Regions from separate parts of the Homo sapiens genome. Here region 1 is linked to region 2. A link means that fine-mapping ties the variant in region 2 to the expression of a gene that starts in the linked region. Tissue or cell type: whole blood. Region 2 holds a variant in brackets; the other region holds the start of a gene. All regions are shown on one strand. Distances are from middle to middle.

The links. PIP is the estimated chance that this variant, and not a neighbour inherited with it, causes the effect.
Region 1: RPL29 starts here. The variant in region 2 is fine-mapped to the expression of RPL29 in whole blood (TOPMed, PIP above 0.99).

The regions. Positions count from the first base shown.
Region 1 is chr3:51,992,484-51,998,361 of GRCh38, forward strand. It overlaps RPL29 (ribosomal protein L29), which reads right to left and starts at 3,412. Exons shown (of 4, transcript NM_000992.3): 1 at 3,374-3,412; 2 at 2,942-2,986; 3 at 2,559-2,623; 4 at 1,039-1,643. The coding sequence starts at 2,978. The coding sequence ends at 1,266. RefSeq lists enhancers at 871-1,603, 3,357-3,516.
Region 2 is chr3:51,879,473-51,885,350 of GRCh38, forward strand. No RefSeq gene overlaps it. Among named protein-coding and RNA genes, the nearest start is that of IQCF5, 6.8 kb to the left of the region's middle. The variant T/G (reference allele first, on the strand shown) is at 2,164.

The DNA of each region.
Region 1 (5,878 bases), 110 kb after region 2:
CCCCAGCTCTGGTTGGGCAATTGAAACCTCCTAGGGCCCCACATGGACTGCCTAGATCAAATGCTACCCCCACCCCTTCGTAGGTTCATTATCTTCAATATTTTCTCACCCGTGAAACAAAGATAATCATAATACCTACTTCAGAAGTAGGGGATCACATGCCATGGGCTGCACCTGCAGCTGTAGCATAACAGCACCCCTTTAGGAGTTTCTAAAGTGTCCGAGGTTGGACCAAGGCTGGTTTTGAGGATTAAGTGCGGCCAGGAAGTGCCCACGTGGTGCCTTCTATAGGCAGCCTCCACAAAGGCTTACTATTACTTCAGTACTTTCTTCACTGACTGCTGAGGATAAAGACCTCCATGTGAAGCAGCTGACCCAGGGGCACAGAAGGGTCAGAACCAGTCACGGGAGTAAGGCAGTGCCACTACCACCTGCCTTCCTGGGTCCCTAGCTGTTGGGGGACTAACATAGCCCAGAGCAGTGGATGCTGACCAGGTGCACCAAAAGAGCCCAAATCTGGGACACCTCAGGCCAGAGTGCAGAGCTGCTCAGCGGGGCCCCTTCCCCTCCCTTGCAGTAAGCTTTAAGACCTCATGAGGATGTTTAAGATTTCTCCCTTTGGGCCAGGAGCACTGGCTCACGCCTGTAATCCCAGCACTTTGGGAGGCCGAGGCAGGCAGATCACAAGGTCAGGAGATCAAGACCATCCTGGCTAACACAGTGAAACCCCATCTCTACTAAAAATACAAAAACAAAATTAGCCGGGTGTAGTGGCAGGCACCTGTAGTCCCAGCTACTTGGGAGGCTGAGGCAGGAGAATGGTGTGAACCTGGGAGGCGGAGCTTGCAGTGAGCCGAGATGGCACCACTGCACTCCAGCCTGGGTGACAGAGCACGATTCTGTCTCAAAAAAAAAAAAAAAAATTTCTCCCTTTGCTCGGCAGGTTACACAGTCCAGCAAGCTATGTGCCCGAGCTTCCCAAAAGCCCCCAATCATTTCTCATTCATTAGGTCCTCCTCTTGCACTTCAGGGCCCCATCTCCTGACTCCCACCCACACCCCACCATCCAGACCCATGTCTTCTCCCACACCAACAGATGGAGCAACCAAACCCATCCCCAGGATCATAGACAGAGGCTAACAAATCCTGCCTCAGGTTTATTTGTACAAATAGCACAGGAGGACCCCAGCCCCATGCAGATGGTAGCCCAGGGGCGGGGGTGGGGGGTCGCACCAGTCCTTCTGTCCTCATGTTGGCAGAGATATCTACTCTGAAGCCTTTGTAGGGGCCTGGGTACGTTTGGGAGCCTGAGCTGGAACTGAAGCTGGGGCTGCAGCCTGGGCCTTGGTTTGATCCTTGGCCTTGGCCTTGGCCTTGGCCTTTGGCCGGCACAGCCTGAGCCCCTTGGCAATACGGGCACGAGCACGCTTCCCAAGCTTGGGGTGGGCAATGTAGGCAAGTCGATCGAGCTTGCGGCTGACACCCTTTGGGATCTTGGGCTTAACCTCCTTGGGCTTTACGAGGGCCTTGATAGCCTCGGCACGTGCACTCATGGCCTTGGCATTGTTGGCCTGCATCTTCTTTAGGCCCTTTTTGTTGTGCTTCTTGGCAAAGCGCATGTTCCTCAGGAACTTGGGGTCCACCTGAAAAGCAGGAAAGGTACAGGTGGCAGCATGTGGGTCCCCAAGTCTCTCCCTGCTGCCCCTCTCCATAGGGGTACCCAGCATTCTAAAGACAGCATCAAGTCAACCTCAAATGTGGAAATACCCAACCTCTTGAAACTATTTCCAGAGAAAGTGTACCACCACCCCAGGGAGCCAATACGCCACCTGGGTAATGCTGTGCAGACCTCCTTCAAGAACAAAATTACAAGCTGCTTTGCTGCCCTGTCTGCCAAGGTTGTGGGGCTTCAACTTCCTACAGCAGGGGTTCGACCAAGTTTTTTCCTGACATCCCCTCAGGGACACCCCCTCCCCTCTTTAGAAGAAGGTGTCAATTAAATACCAAGTCTGGTCCAAAAGACTTATAGCCAAGGTGGGATATGGGGAAACTGAGGCTCAGAGTTTGTGATTCACTCCACGGAACAGAGAGCAAAAGTAAAGGGAAGGAACAGACTGGGGACATGCTCAGCTCTCCCCTAGACCCTCCAGCCTTCTCAGCTAATCCTTAGAACCCCCTGACACAGGAAGAGAAGCTGACCCCAACTCCAGCACTGGGTCAGATGGAGGTCATAAGGCTGGTCAGTGTGGGAATGTGCCCTGCACGCACTCAGACAAGGCCACTCCTTACCCTAAGTGCCACTGCCAAGCAAGGGAGATAGCCAAACTGCCCTCAGGAGGCAGGTTACACCCTGACCAGAGGGTTACACTTCAGGCTGTGGAGACCAAGGAAAGCTTTATTATGGGTCTGGTAGGGTAGAAAAAGGAATTGCAGGCTTTGGGTGGGCCAGTTAGGCTGTGCTCAGGCAGAAGCCAAAGCTAGAGAAAAACTACATGAGAGGCCTTGACTGTGCACCTGGAACCAAGAAAAGACACTTCCATGTGATTCAGTGCACTCACCCCCTTAAGAGATTCGTATCTTTGTGATCGGGGTTTCTTGATACCATTTCTGTGCCATTTTCGGGCTGTGGGAGAAAAAAAGGGAATTAAGCCAACAAAGAACTTTCCTCTAATAAGACCACCCAACATCACAGCTGGCAAGTCTGGGAGAACCAACACTTCCTACAGCAGCTACACTTGAGATATGGGAAACCCTTACTACTAAATGCAAAACACTCTGTATCTCAAGTAGATCTCTAAACCTATAAACCCTAAAGTTATTACTGGGTGAAATCAATCAGCCTCAGGCCCACAATGGAAACGTGCCCCTTCATCTCTGTCCCAGTTTGCCTGAACCAGTCCTTGCCAGGGTCTGGGATGTAGGCAGGGCCCAAAAAACTTACACTGGTTGTGTGTGGTGTGGTTCTTGGACTTGGCCATGTCTGCACCTGGAAGACAAAAGTGGAGATCAGGGTTAAGGGCTCGCCAGGCTGGGCCACCTCTGCCCCCCCCATTCTGGTCAGAATGAGCCTGCAGGCAGAGAATGTGCAGCCTCCACGAGTCTCGGCTTACTCTGCACGACCAAACGCCAGTCCTGGCCTCCCAAACCCAGGTAATGATGCCCTGAAATCAACTCCTTACCCCCGGAAAGCTGCATTCCCCAATAAAGTGGCTTTCCCTGCCATCCCCCTCCTAGGACCTAGAAGCACCATTCCCACCCCGCAGCTTTTGCTCCCGACAGACACACGGTCGGTCACCAGTCCTCTCCGCAGCCCGCGCCCCGCCGCCACCCGTAAGTCGCGGATGGCATCGGATGCCGCGCGGCCAACACTCACCATAAGCCGCGGCTCCCGAAGCGCCTAGAACCGGAAGAGAAAGGGGCTGCGGTGCAGCACGGGAAATAGGGTCAACAACGCCGGAAAGTACTACTGGAAAAGCTTCCCCAGGCTCCGCGAAGAAAAGTTCCGAAGCCCGGAAGAACGCAAGCCAGACGTGGAGGCGGTGCTACGAGCTTGCCTCCGCCCCCTTCAGGCTGCCTCCTCCCTTCTCTGTTTCTCCAGGACCTGTCTCTTAAGTCTTATTCAAGATACTGAAAAAGAAAGGAGTCCTTGAGGGATGTTGTTGGGCAAGAAGATCTGTGTTCTTTTTCTTTTTTTTTTTTTTTGAGACGGAGTTTCGCTCTTCCACCGAGGCTGGAGGGCAGTGGCACAATCTCGGCCCACTGCAACCTCCGCCTTCCGGTTTCAAGCGATTCTCTTGCCTCAGCCTCCCGAGTAGCTGGGATTACAGGCGCCCACCACCACGCCCGGCTAATTTTTACATTTTTAGTAGAGACGGGGTTTCACCATGTTGGCCAGGCTGGTCTCGAACTCCTGACCTCGCGATCCGCTCGCCTCTGTCCCCCAAAGTGCTGGGATTACAGGCGTGAGCCACCGCACCTGGCCGATCTGTGTTCTTAAAAGCACCCCTGTAATCCCAGCACTTTGGGAGGCTGAGGTGGGCGGATCACGAGGTCAGGAGTTCCAGACCAGCCTGGACAACATGGTGAAACCCCATCTCTACTAAAAATCCAAAAAAAAAAAAAAAAAAAAAAAAAAAATTCACGGGGCGTGGTGGCACGTGCCTGTAATCCCAGCTACTCTGGAGGCTGAGGCAGGAGAATTGCTTGAATCTGGGAGGTGGAGGTTGCAGTGAGCCAAGATCGCACCATTGCACTCCAGCCTGGGCTACAGGGCGAGACTCTGTCTCAAAAAAAAAAAAGAAAAGCACGCCTGACTCTTTCGTGGAGAAGGAGCAGAGGGGAGGAAGGAGAGAGGGCTGCCTGGACCTGAGGGAGGACAGTGGGAATGCAGAGGAGTGGACAAAGAAAGAGTACTGGACTTGGGACACAGAAGATGAGGGAGAAAAAGGAGGCAAGGATAGCCCCTATGTCTTTGGCTTGACAACTGGGTGAATGGTGGGCTGTTTACAGAGATGGAAGATTGAGTGGGGAGCAGGGGCTTTGTTTGTTTTGTTTTGAGGGGGAATGATGAGCCAGATATTTTTGTTGGATGCATTAAATGTGAGATGCCTGTTGGACATCAGAATTGAGAAATTGTTGCCTCTAACAACTCTGTTGCCTTCTCCACCTCTTCCCCCTATAGTTCATTTTCCACACGGCAGTGGGGCTTGGGGACTTGTTTTAAGATACAAATCAGATCCTGTCCCTTAAATCTGCAAGGACATCCCCTTGCATTGAAGATCAATTCTTTACCCACTTGACCCTGACAACCTCTGTCATTTACTTCTCTCCAAACGCATTGCCTTTCTTTCCTGCCAACCACAAATGTGTGTTCTGCCTCAGGACCTTTGCACTTGCTATCCCAGCCACCTGGACTGCCCTTCTCCCTGCTTTTTGGATGGTGTGCTCTTTCCTATAGAGGCCTCCCTGGACTCCATTATCTAAAATAGAGAACCACTGCCTCATCTCACCAGTGATTCTGTGTCCTCTCATGGTTTCCTTTCTTTTCTATTCTTTTTTTTTTTTTCTTTTTTTTAGACAGTCTCACTCTGTCTCCCAGGCTGGAGTGCAGTGGTGCGATCTCAGCTCACTGCAACCTCTGCCTCCCGGGTTCAAGCGATTCTCCTGCCTCAGCCTCCTGAGTAGCTGGGATTACGGGCGCACACCACCACTCCCAGCTAATTTTTAAAGAATTATTTTTAGTAGAGACGGGTTTTCACCATGTTGGCCAGGCTGGTGTTGAACTCCTGACCTCAGGTGGTCTGCCCGCCTCGGCCTCCCAAAGTGCTGGGATTACAGGCGTAAGCCACCGTGCCCGGCCATGGTTTGCTTTCTTTATAGAACTTTCCCAGACTCTAATTGCATTGTTTACTTAGTTGTGTATGTGTCCATTATCATAGGAGCCCAGAGTTTGGGACTGGTTTGATCACCTTCATTTTCCCACTGCCTAACTCAGCATAATGTAGATAGAGCAAGAGCTTAATAAACACATGCCCAGTGAACGTTCCTTGACAAGCCAGGTTCGTGGAGTGACAGACGCATACTGCAGAGGTTTAGGGAGTGAAGCGGAAAGGAGGTTGTGGAGGCAGGACATGTGGATGACTCATTACCAAAGCATTCCTGAGAAAGGGGAGAGAATTCTGACAGGTGTGAGTTGGGAGAATGAAAAGCAGGCTTATATACTGATGGATGATCTGGTGCCAAGAAAGAAACAGCTGAGCCCAGAGGAGAGTGTCTCTGCAGGAATAAAGTCCCTGTGGGGTGCTGAGCACAGGTAGAGAACCTGGTGGGCAAAGACAGGGGCTACAGGAGGTGGGGGTGGTGTGATGCCTGACAGCAA
Region 2 (5,878 bases):
GATTAGAGGTGTGAGCCACCGTACCCAGCCTTATAGTATTTTCTTATAGCAGCCTGGACAAACTAAGACAGGGGACTAGAACAACAGAAGTTTAATTGGCTCACAGTTCTGGAGGTTAGAAACCCAAAATCAATGTGTCAGCAAGGCCATGCTCCTGAAACCTGTAGGAAAAGGACCTTTCCTTTCCTCTTCCTAGCTTTGGGGGATGTGCTGGCATCCCCCATGGTGTTCCATGGCATGTAGACACATCGCTCCAATCCTCTGTCTTCACATGGCATTCTCCCTGTGTCTTCACATATTCTTCCCCCTGTGCACATCTGTGCCTGTGTCCAACTTTCCCCTTAATATGAGGACACTAATCATATCAGATTAGGGCCCACCCAATGACTTCATCTTATTGACTACATCTGCAAAAGCTCTATTTCCAAATAAGGTCACTTTTTGAGGTATTGAGGGTTAGGACTTCAACATATCTTTTAGGAGGGATACACTTCAACCTATAACACCAACCACAAGCCAGTGATTGGCTGCAGGATTCCCCTTAGGAGAGGACATAATCTTGGTCAAATCTCTTCCCTATGGCCAAAAACAATTCCCAATGGATGACAGCAGTGACCGAGCAGCAGCCAATATTCCCAAGAGATGTGGGATGAGTCACCAGCTATGAAGAAAGGATCCACTACATCTGCAAATCCACTGCAGCCCAACCCTTTATGCCACTCATATCTACTTGCTTCCCATAGTAAATGTTCACCATTTAAAAATAACGATTCTGGTTGGTCTTGTCTCCTGGGAAAACTTAAAAGAGAAGAGTTATGTCTTTGCTATTGTGAATAGTGCTGCAATAAACATACATATGCATGTGTCTTTATGATAGAATGATTTATATTCCTTACAACCTAAATGCCCATCATTGGTAGACTGAGAAAATGTGGTACATACATATACACCATGGAATACTATGCAGCCATAAAAAAGAATGAGATTATGTCTTTTGCAGGAACATGGATGGAGCTGGAGTCCATTATCCTTAGCAAACTAACACAAAACTGAAAACCAAATACCACATGTCCTCACTCATAAGTGGGAGCTAAATGGTGAGAACACATGGACACATAGAGGGGAACAACAGATGCTGGGGCCTATTGGAGGGTGGATGGTGGGAGGAGGGAGAAGATCAAGAAAAATAACTTATGGGTAATAGGCTTATTACCTGGGTAACAAAATGTACAAGAAACCCCAATAACACAAGTTTACTTATGTTTAATAAACCCGCATGTGTACTCCTGAAGAAAAAAGAAAAGGGTCAAAAGGACAAGTTACAGGCCCATCATTTACTTTGAGACCATCAGTCACACACCTTTTCCCCTTCATCCACTACCCTTTCTAGATTCCTTTCCTGTTTGACTTGCATCTCTGCTGTCTACACAGGTTGCCAGTAATGGGAAGGGAAGTGGGTGCAGTGGTGATCCAGACCCTCATCCCTGGCTATAATTCTCTGGCTATAATTCTCAGGCTATGATTGCTGTATGGGTTAATCTACCATTACACCTAGGCAGCGAAGCACCAAGAAATTTTCCAGTGAATCATCCAAGCCACATTCATAGTCTTTCCTGCTCACCCCCACCTAGTGTAGCAGCAGTGCATCTTCTCCTAATGATCAGTGTTAATTATTCCTGCCAACAGAGTGACTCCTTTCATTATAGAGTGACTTCTTGTCTCTTGGCATAAGGAGGATAAAGTGACCAGGTCACAGCCATAGCTTTATGTTTAGTGAGACTCTTACTGTGACCCCTGATAAATGTCTTTCCTCCCTAGAATCTAGTACCTCCAGTCAGATGGAGCCTGAAGTTACAGGGACAGAATGCATAAATTCCCAAGTGAATAACTTGAGGCGTAGTCACAGGTCCACTATCATTCCACATATTGGTTCCTGTTAGGGGCTCAGCATTGTGTAATGGACATTGACTTGGGGCATGGTTGGGCATTCTACAACTGGTAGGTCAATACAGCCCACTGCCTGCCTGTTTTTGTACATCCTGCAAAGAATATTTGTACATTTTGCAGTGATTGGAAAAACTCAAAGAATATTATTTCATGACACATGAAAATTATACAAAATTCAAATTTCTGTGTCTATAAAGTTTTATTGGAACACTACCA[T/G]GCTTATTTGCTTATATATTGTCTATAGCCACATTTGCACTACAATGACAGAGTTAAATATTTGTTGAAGGGGACCATACATGGCACTCTCCTCATTTCCCCTGCTGCTCAGCCCACAAAAATCACAGAGGTGCAGTTATAGCTAAACAGTGTTCTGTGTGCCACATATACTGCTGTACTGTGACCTATTTTTTAATTACCAGTGCATGCCCATCACATCAAAATAAGAAGAAAAGACAAAAGCAGACTTTAAATGTCGCACTTTTAAGACAATGGCAAAGCATTGTGTCCATTATGCAATGACACTATAGCTATGCTAAAAGAACACGATGTTATCCATCAACATTACCAGACTAAGCACTCCACAATATTCTTAACTTGCAAGAAGTTAATAATCATCAAAGTTAAACATTTTAAGTGGCATATCTCATCACAGTAGAATTTCTTTACAAAAACTAAAAAATCAAAATGAGACTGCAAGCAAAATAGGTTACCAAGTTGCTCATTTGTTAGCCAAGCAGGGAAAGGTTATTTTTATTACCAGTAGTGAGTTAATTAAATCATATTTGATTGCAACAGCTGAAGAAATGTGTCCAGAGAAAATAAACATCATTAGCCTTTTTTTTTTTTTTTTTTTTTGAGGCTGACTGTAGCTCTGTTACCCAGGCTGGCGTGCAGTGGTGTGATCTCGGCTCAGTGCAACCTCCACCTCCCAAGTTCAAGCAATTCTCCTGACTCAGCCTCCCGAGTAGCTGGGATTACAGGCATGTGCCACCACACCTGGCTAATTTTGTATTTTTAGTAGAGACGGGGTTTCACCATGTTGGCCAGGCTGGTCTTGAACTCCTGACCTCAGGTGATCCGCCCATCTCAGCCTCCTGAATGCTGGGATTACAGATGTGAGCCACCACACCCAGCCCATTGTTAGTCTCTCAATGAGAATAACTGCTCAAAAAGTCAAAGACATGAGTAACAATATCAATAGCCAATTAAACAACAAGGCAAATGATTTCAAGTGGTTTTTCTTGGCTCTTAATGAGTTGACAGATGTACCAATACGGCTTGGCTGTTGCTTATTGAAGGGTAACTGCCAAGTTTGAAGTGACAGAAATTAACCTCTATGTGTATGAAACAAACATGGATGAGAATATTTGTTGAAGAAATTGAGAAAATGCTAATTCAACACAGCCTGAAATGGAATCTGCCAAGATGTGATAAATCTGATAGTAGTGAAAATATGTGTGAGGCCGAACAAAGGCTTAGTTGAAAAAACAAAGTTTATGAAAATGTAGGTGCTTAAAGCCTATGGTTATTCATTGTATCATTCATCTGTAGGTACTTTGTGGAAAACATTGGAATCAATCCTGTTACTGAACCAGTAGTGTCAATGGTAGACTTCACATGGCATCATTGACTCAACCATCATCAGTTCCATGAACTTTTTTTAGAAATAGAAGCTGAATTTGCTGACTTGCCCAACCACACAGCAGTTCCATAGCTTAGCAATGGTAAGGTTTTACTGAGAACTTTAAAGTTAAAGGTCGAGATTGAAATTTTTCTGAATGAGAAAAACTGCCTTTAACTACTATTATCCAGCACTGAATAGCACTAGAAATAAGTTTTTGCTGCAGTCTTTATGTTCCTTAATGAATTAAACCTGAAGTTAAAGGGAAAAACAAAACTTATACATAATATCTATACTATGGTAAAGTCAAGTTGGCAACAATGTTGAATCACAAGTAATGTTAAGCTGCTCTAAGTACTTCCCGAGCTGTCAAAAGTTAAAACATGAAGTGAGATATCCATTCCCACACAAATTTGCAGGGGGTATCTTTTCTGAACTCAAACTGCAGTTCCAGCAGCACGTGCATTTCAGACTTCTATGCAAGTACAAGGGGAATTTCAACATTTCTAAATATATTTATTTAAGCAATTGAGTAGTGACCACCTGAACTTCAGCTGGAAGTAGTTAATCAACAATGTAATGACATGCGTACAGGCAAATGTCAAAAGAAGAATCTAATAGAACTCTTATAAGTATCTCCCAAGTGAAGAATATTCTCAATCAAAGTCATATGTTCATGGATTCTACATTAGCTCATTTTTCCACTGCTATAAAGAAATACCTGAGACTGGGTAACTTATAAAGAAAAGAGGTCTAATTGGCTCATGATTCTTCAGGCTGTACAGGAAGCATGGCAGCATCTGCTTGGCTTCTGGGGAGACCTCAGGAAACTTAACAATCATGGCAGAAGATGAAAAGGAAGCTGGCACTTCACATGGCTGGAGCAGGAGGAAGGGTCGCAGGGAGGAGGCGGGGGAGGTGCTACACTTTCAAACAACCAGATCTCATGGGAACTCACTATCACAGGAACAGCACCAAGGGGATGGTGTTAAACCCTCCATGAAGGACCACCCCCATGCTCCAATCACTTCCCACCAGGCCCCACCTCCAACATTGAGAATTACAGTTCAACATGAGATTTGGTGGGGATACAGATCCAAACCATATCAGATTCATATTAGTATTTGGCAGTACCAAATATTTTACATAGTGCCTATACGTGTAAAAAGACATTGCAAAGATGAAATATATAAAATTCATCACATATAAGCATGTGCAACTGATTTTGATGACAGGAAACACTAACTTTCAGCACTGATTAAACTAAACATGGTCCTTCTGCCCACCCCCAAAAATGCATTGTTTTCATTAGTCCACCTGTATTACAAAACTTACTCAATTTTTATTATATCTTTAATTTCATCAATAAAAATTTGTGGAAACTTGTTTTCTCTCTTGCTATATAACTACGTATACACGTCATATCATCAATTTTGCCTCTCAGCCCATGAAGCTGGAAATGTTTACTATGTATCTAATCCTTTACTGGAAAAGTTTACTAACTCGTTTCTCTAATGGCTAATGGTGATGAGCATCTTTTCATGTGCTTAGTTGGTATCCGTATGTCTTCTTAGTAATGCGTCTGCTTAAGTCTTTGGCCATATTTTAATGGGCTGTTTATTACTGTATTCACTGAGGTTCTCCAGAGAAACAGAACCAATAGGAGGTAGAGATAGAAACAGATTTATCATGGGATTGGCTTACTGCAACTATGGAGGCTGAGAAGTCTCACAATCTGCTCTCTGAAAGCTGGAGAACCAGGAAAGCTGGTGATGTAATTTGGCTGGAGTTGGAAGGGTGGGAAAGGGAGGACTGCCCTCTGGTGCAAGTCCCAAAGTCGAAAGCCAGAGAACCAGGAGCTCTGTAGGAGAAGGTGAATGTCCCAGCTCAAGAAAAGAGAGTGTATTCACACTTCTTCCACCTTTTTGTTCTATTTAGGCTCTCAACAAATTGGATACTGGCCACCACATTGGTGAGGGCAACCTCATTGACCCAGCCTACCAATTTCAATGCTAATCTCTTCCAGAAACATACTCACAGACACACCAAGAAATTGTGTTTTACCAGCTATCTGGGCATCTTTTAGCCCAGTCAAGTCGACACATGCATTAACCATCACAATTGCTAATTAATTTTGAGAGTTCTCTATATATTATGGATAAAAATTATCTGTGAGGTATGTGATTTATATTTTCTCCCATTATGTGGCTTATATTTTCATTTTCTTAACAGTATCTTTCATGGATGAAGTCCAATTAATAAATTTTTTTCCTTTATGAATTTCACATTTGTTGTCATATCTAAGAACTC